Homo sapiens: one gene and its partner. The protein of the gene in region 2 purifies or fractionates together with the protein of the main gene of each other region. This does not show direct contact. Each region holds a gene or a part of one and is shown on either strand. Other genes may lie near its edges. The genes, in order: IQCB1 and TUBA4B.

Region 1 (3,821 bases), on a different chromosome or scaffold from region 2:
CTAATAGGTCTGAATTGAAAAAACAGTAACCGTTTTTGAACTCAGAAGATCTAATAAAGTTTATCTGAAAAACAGAGAAAAAGGACAAAAGTCCAAATTTAAAAAAAAATCATCACGTAGCTAGAAAAGTTGGTTTGTTAAAAGATAACCTAAATATTCTTATATTGATAAAGTTGATACTGCCACTCACCTGGATGAACTATTTCGAGCATACTCAGCTGCAATTCTCGGGAAAGTCTCATGGCTCTCTGTCTTTGAAGTTGCAATTGTAATTTGAGGTCCTCTTCTTCCTTCTGCCTATTTATCTCCAGCAACATCTTTGATCGTTTGGATCTGTGATGGAAACAGTGTGTTATACATAATTTTCATAAATCATATGAAAAAATGCATAACCTCACTAGTAATCAAATAAATGTAAACAGAAAAAATTTTAAGATAATTTCTAGTGTTAATAAGGTATGATAAAATAGCTTGTCATCTGCTGCTGTTGTGCAATCTTTCTGTAGAAATATTTGAATATATGCATTAAAAGTCTGGAAAAATATTTGAAATATATAAATAAAAAGCCTTAAAAGTGATGACCAATTAATTCTATTACAAATAATTTTCTTAAGGAAATAATCAGATATATATGTAAAAATTTATGTTCAAAAATGTTCTCCACAGTATTACAACAGTAACAAGTTGAAAACAAACTTTGTCTCACAACAGCGAGTTGGATAAACAGATACTGGTTCATTCACCTGATGGGATGGGATTCTATGAACTATGAAAACATAAAATGTTCGAAGAATATTTAGTGACATGAGAATATACTGATGATCTAATGTCAGGTAAAAGGAAAATCAGGATATAGAAGAATGACATCAAAATTGTGTCAAAAAACTTACATTTACTTACACAAAAAAAAAATAAAAAACATTAAAATTTCAAGTGATTTTTACTGCATGATGTAATTACAGTTGATCTTTATTTTCTTCTTATGCCTATTTCTCAATTATTGACAACTGAACATTACTTTCATAACTGGTTATGAAAATTTTCATGTGACCACAAACATTTTATATAATTATAATTTCTGTATTATCTGCTTTTATTCACCAAAATTTCTCCTTAGCCATTCCCATCTAGTTTTTGTTGCTTCCAATATCACTATGTAAGGAGACTACAAGTGTCAGTTTACAGTAAATATACTCAAAATGCTTTCAGACACCCACAGAAAAAGAAAACGAGGATAAGAAGAAAGGCAGAATAAACTACTTAGTTTACCGCTATAGACTTAATTTGACATGTGTCTCCCTCAAGAACATTTTCTCTTAGATCTTTTTTTTAAACTGTATTCTTAGAATTAAACTGTAAACAAATGTGGTACCTTGGCTATAGCTTTGTACTCTTAATAGTCAGACTTCATTATAGTATAGTTAGGATTATTATGATTTTTCAACTGAATTTTCAACTCAAAATAGTTTATTTTGATTTTGATAAAATTTTGTGTGCCTGTGGTTGTTTCTCATAAATTCTTCCATCAATTACAACTTAAATTTTCTCTAGCTTTCTACTTAGGGCAGAGTAGAGAATTTATTTGTTTTGAAACTTCTTTCTTATCCCTATTATCAAGGGTAGAGAAGACCTCAAAAGTGTATGTGTGTCAAAAGATTCCAGAGAAGATCTAGGGCTAGTTGAATAGTTCTAAGTGTCTCTTGCTCTTTGTGAAAGCTGGAAATGAAGTAGGTAAGGGCCTCTCCCTTCCCAAAGAATAGCTGATAGCAACTTGCCTGTTCTACAGAACTCCATCACCTCAAAACTTCTGGGTTATACAGCATGCAGATAATAATGTTTTATCTCTTACCCATTCATAGAGGGTAAAAGAGAGCAGGCCCTAAACAGAGCCTCCTTTTAAACTGATTTTTAAAAAACTACCTCTGTGGCCGGGCGCGGTGGTTCACGCCTGTAATCCCAGCACTTTGGGAGGCCAAGGTGGGTGGATCACCTGAGGTCAGGAGTTTGAGACCAGCCTGGCCAACATAGCGAAACCCCATTTCTACTAAAAATACAAAAATTAGCTGGGTGTGATGGTGTGCACTTGTAGTCCCAGCTACTTGGGAGGCTGAGGCAGGAGCTTGAACCTGGGAGGTGGAGGTTGCAGTGAGCCAAGATCGTGCCACTGCACTCTAGCCTGAGTGACAGAGTGAGACTCCGCCTCAAAACAACAACAACGACAAAAAACTACCTCTGTTTCTAACTTCTAATTGGCTATAGATTATAATGTCTAATACTGCATTATCAATATTTTAAATACCATTTTACACTATTAGTATGAAAAACATAGTAATCATTAAAATTGCATCTGCTAGAATATTTAATCTGTCAGAAAACTGGGTTTGGGAAACAATTTAGGCATGTAGGCTATCAAATATGGCAAAAATGAAAAGACTATGGAGCATGAAGGTGGAAGTAAAGTACAAACCAGAAAGACAGGACAAAAGTGAGATTTGGGCCGGGCGCGGTGGCTCACGCTTGTAATCCCAGCACTTTGGGAGGCCGAGGCGGGTGGATCACGAGGTCAGGAGATCGAGACCATCCTGGCTAACACGGTGAAACCCCGTCTCTACTAAAAAATAACAAAAAAATTAGCCGGGCGTGATGGCGGGCGCCTGTAGTCCCAGCTACTCGGGAGGCTGAGGCAGGAGAATGGTGTGAACCCGGGAGGCGGAGCTTGCAGTGAGCCGAGATTGCGCCACTGCACTCCCGCCTGGGCCACAGAGCAAGACTCCGTCTCAAAAAAAAAAAAAAAAAAAAAAGTGAGATTTGGTGATTTAAATAGGGACTAAATTGTAAACAGGTGTGCTTATTGGATTCATATGTTTTACTTTCATATCTGAAAACATTTATTAGGAACTGAAGTGATTTTGAATGTAATTCCCCCATTTATTATTAAATAACATCGAGTTATTTTGTTCAGAGTTTCTCTAATCACTCAAAAATCAAACAATTATTCTTCCAACTGGTTTCTTTGTAAGAATTAGTAGGCACTGGACCACCTGGCATCTGTACTACACTTCTGAAGATGAAATGACTGATCAGATGTCATATTCTGAAATAAGTAAATTCCATGATTTACATTTAATCAATCTGAATTTTTACCATTAAAGTGGGAGTTGACCAAATTTTCTGCTGCCAAGACACTGTGCCTCAGAGGGAGAGAGAGAAAAAAGATGCTATCTGCATTTAAGAAGCTCAGTTTCAAGATGAAATCAACAAATGTAATTAAAACACTTAAAAATCAGCACTATGATAGAGGTAGGTAAATTGTGAGGTTTCTCTAAGATAACTAGAGCAGCTGTTAGCCGCTTCAGAAAACCTTGCTGAATAAGAGTACTTAAGAGACAAAGTTTCTGAATACGAGAAATGACTAAATAAAAAAGAAACCACTATGAAAGTGCATTAGCAAGGGCGTGACTATAAAAGAATGCCTCTTGCTGAATCTAAAGAACACTAATCAACCTGGACCCATAAGTGTGACCAGTGGGCAGTCTCTCTCCCAAAACCATGGGAAGGGGAAATTACTGAGATAAGTCCTGAGCACAAAAAGACAGAAATAACCTTTGAAAAAAAACCAAGCTACAAAGGAAGCAAGAGACATTTGCATGAACTGTTACAACTAATAGAAGAGCGAAGGTGCTGAACTGGAGAAAACTGAAAATTAAAAAATTAAATAGAATCCAACAGGTTAGAACCGCATTTCAGTATATTCTGGAACCTCAAATGCAAAAATACTGGAAAGGCAACAAACACAAAATGTGAGACTTAAATAATTTTTG
Region 2 (3,821 bases):
TAATCTAGATGCATTAAAATGCTTTAAAAATCTCAGTCTTGGCCGGGCACAGTGCCTCACACCTATAATCCCAACACTTTGGGAGGCCAAGGCAGATGGATCATCTGAGGTCAGGAGTTTGAAACCAGCCTGGCGAACATGGTGAAACACTGTCTCTACTAAAAACACAAAAATTAGCGGGGTGTGTTGGTGCATGCCTGTAGTCCTAGGTACTCGGGAGGCTGAGGCAGGAGAATTGCCTGAACCCAGGAGGAGGAGGTTACAGTGAGCCAAGATCACAAAACTCAGTCTTTTCATTCTGCTTTACATAAGACAGCTGACTGCCATTAGGATAGTTTTCTTTTTGGAGTTGGTGATACCTAGGTTGACTCTGAGAGTCCAACTCCCAAGGCCAGTTGGGAGAAGTTTCAGTGCTACACAAGAGAGTTTTGAGCCCAGTGGGCCCTCTGGGCCCCATATCACTCCATCTGGACAATAATTCCTGAGGTCCATGGTTTCATGGGCCAACCCAGTAGAAGGCTGAGCTTTCTTATCTTTGATATGTTAAGTGGCTGGGTCTCTTCTTTGGGCCTCTTTGTTCCAGGTGGGAGACAGAAGAGTTCTAACCTTCAGTCTGTAGCCAAAGCCAGAGTTAACCAACTTGAGATCATTCCCTAGCTTACTGGGTTGACAGGGTCTCTGAAAAAGTCCCCTGTTTCAACTGCACTATGTAACACAGTGGCTGAAATTTCACATTAGCAACTACTTCCTGGATAGGGTTGCTAAATAAAATACTTTTATTTGCTAAATCTGGCAGACCTAGTCCTGGTTTTGGCTGCTATCTGGAAGAGGGACTGAACTGTACAACAGTCCCCCCTTACTTACAAAGATATGTTGTAGGGCCCCCAGCGGATGCCTGAAATGGCGGATAGTACTGAACCTTATGTACTGTTTTTTCCTATACATGCATACATATGACCAAGTTTAATTCATAAATTAGGCACAGTAAGAGGTTAAGAACAACAATAGGCCAGGTGCAGTGGCTCATGCCTGTAATCCCAGAACTTTGGGAAGTCAAGGCAGGCAGATCACTTGAGGTCAGGAGTTCGAGACCAGCTTGGCCAACATGGTGAAACACCATCTCTAATAAAAATACAAAAATTAGCCAGGCGTGGTGGCATGTGCCTGTAATCCAAGCTACTCAGGAGGCTGAGGTGGGAGAATTGCTTGAACCCAAGAGGCAGAGGTTGCAGTGAGCTGAGATCATGCCACTGCACTCCAGCCTGGGTGACAGAGTGAGGCCCTGTCTCAAAAAAAAAAAAAAAAAGAACAATAATGATATAGAGAAATAAAGCAATGATAGTAATATGCCAGCATCACTGCTCTTGAGCGGTGGGGCTGTTATGAGGTAGAATAAGGGTTACATGAGCAGAAGCATCGCCACAGTCGATCTGATAAGGGATCCGGCTACTCAGTGGCTAATGGGTAGGTAGTGTCAACAGTGTGGATACGCTGCACACAGGGATGTTCTAGACATGATGGAGTAGGATGGCACTAGATTTCATCACACTACTCAGAATGGCGTGCAGTTTAAAACGTATACATTGTGTTTTTCTGGAACCTTCTCTTTAATATTTTCAGACTGTGGTTGGCTGCAGGCAACTGAAACTGCAGAAAGTGGCTAATGGGGGGCTACTGTGGTGTGATTTCCAGGCAACATGAGGGCCCATTTGAGGCTAGTGGCCATGCGTTCGAAACATCAGTCAGCATGGTTCTGGATTTTTCTATGGCCACTGTTTAGCTGGGTGAGTGCAGACACAGAGCTGGGGACAAAACAAATTTAACCAGGGTTCTGGTTTAGTCAAACAAGGATGTTGAAGCTAGTGGGAGGCAAGACAGTTGAGGGGTACAAAAGGGAGTGACCCTGGCTGGCCATGGAACTGAAGACTGGGAGGAAGGAGATAAAGACCGAGGAGGGGCTGCTGTGCACACTCTGCCATGTGGAAAGAGGGGAAGCAGAGCCCGAGTCCCAGATAAATCTTAATTCCAGCATTAATTAATCCCCATGTGACCTCAGGCAGGACACTAGGGATTTCAATTTCCTTTCCTTCATCCTGGGAAAGGGAGGCCCTGCCTTGCCTACCTTACAGAGTTGTTGAGGGATTCAAAGGAGGTACGGAGAGAAGGTGCCTTAAGCATAAAGCAGACTAGGCGCAGGGGCTCATGCCTGTAATCCCAGCACTTTGGGAGGCTGAGGCAGGTGGATCATCTGAGGCCAGGAGTTTGAGACCAGCCTGGCCAACATGGTGAAACCGTGTCTCTACTAAAAATATAAAAATTAGCCAGGCCTGGTGGCAGGTGTCTGTAATCCCAGCTACTCAGGAGGCTGAGGCAGGAGAATCGCTCGAACCCCGGAGGTGGAGGTTGCAGTGAGCTGAGATTGCACCACTGCACTCCAGCCTGGGCAACAGAGCAAGACTCCTTCTCAAAAGAAAAAAAAAAAGATGCATAAAGCAGGATACAAATGCTAGAGACTAGCCTTTTTATTTCAGAATTTTGCCTAAGACTATCGGGAGACTCCTTTTCTGGGGACATAAGGCCAGGCTAGAGCAGCAGTGACTTGCCATGGCCTAGGAAGAGACATTTAGGAAGTGCCTTGAGGCCCTGCTCATCCTCTTGCTTTGCCCTTGGAGAGCAACAGCTGTTTTGGACTAAGCACTTAAGAAAGGTTACCTTGTTAGTACCTCGTAATACTACCTCTCCCCATTCTCCAGAGAGAGAAAAAAAAAGAAGTTTTAATTGCTAGTAGCTATTAGAGGTGGGATTAAAACCAAGCTCTAGGTCGCTTGTTCTATGATATTCTGAGTTTCCAGGCAGGATGTCCTGAGGCTTGATCTCTTGGCCGAGGACTCATTATTTCTGGATCATTGCAGAGATCTTCTTAGTCCCACCCACAGTCGACTTACAGCCCTCAGCAACCCTAGGGCAGGGGAGTGCAGGGGTTTGATGGGTGGGGGCGGTGCTGGAGCTCAGGGTCTTGATTTCTAAATCATCTTCCACCTGTGAAGTGCAGGCTGTGCCACCAGGAAATGGGATTGCGTGACTGACAACAGATACCATGTACCCAGAGGCCTGGATACCTGTGTGGAGTTACTAGCCCTGGCCCCTCCTCTGCCCACCTCAGCTGGCTCCCCTGTTTGGGTGCAGGCCCAGAGCTTGCCTCGTACTCTGTGACCAAGTCAACAGGCCCTGCCCTCCCAGGCCGTTTCTAACAACATCCACCTGCTGAGAGCCACCCAGCGAGTATAAGGAGGAGGCTGGCTGGCCGCTGCAGGCCTCTCACAGATCTATCCCTGCTCACTATCCTGCAGCAGACAGAGAGACAAGACCCCAGCCAGCCCCTGTCCAGGCAGCATGGTGAGTAGAAGGGGCCTTGGGGGGACTGAGCATGCAAGTGAGGGTCCCAGTGGGCCCAAGATATCTGGCGTGAAGGTACCTTGGGAGTCCACATGGTGATGGGGCTACAGTATGTGGCGAGGTGGGGAGAGGGAAAGAGACTTCCAGATGTGGCTGTGGCCCCCAAATGTGCAGGTGTGGGGGGCATCACAGGGGGTAGGGAAGGAAAGTTTAATGGTAACCAGGTTGTGGGGCTGAGCCTAGGCTGAGAAGCAGGGCTGCTGAGGGGGTCTGAATTTAGGTGTGGGGAGTGTGGGGGAAGCAGGACTTGAGCAGAAAGTGTAGGCGATTTCCTCTGCTGGCTGAGGATCTCCAGACCCTGGGCCTTGCCACAGGTTCACTGTTGGGCTCTGATCCCACCTTCCCACCATGGGGACACATCCTCC

The links.
Region 1: the proteins of TUBA4B (region 2) and IQCB1 purify together in Homo sapiens (co-immunoprecipitation; one large-scale study listed by IntAct). This does not show direct contact.

Annotation. Positions count from the first base shown.
Region 1 is NC_000003.12:121,789,883-121,793,703, forward strand, and holds part of IQCB1 (IQ calmodulin-binding motif-containing protein 1), read right to left. Parts: intron 334-3,821; coding exon 191-333; intron 1-190. UniProt on the Homo sapiens protein: Involved in ciliogenesis. The function in an early step in cilia formation depends on its association with CEP290/NPHP6.
Region 2 is NC_000002.12:219,263,171-219,266,991, forward strand, and holds part of TUBA4B (tubulin-like protein alpha-4B), read left to right. Parts: intron 1-3,350; coding exon 3,351-3,396; intron 3,397-3,821. UniProt on the Homo sapiens protein: Tubulin is the major constituent of microtubules, a cylinder consisting of laterally associated linear protofilaments composed ofalpha- and beta-tubulin heterodimers.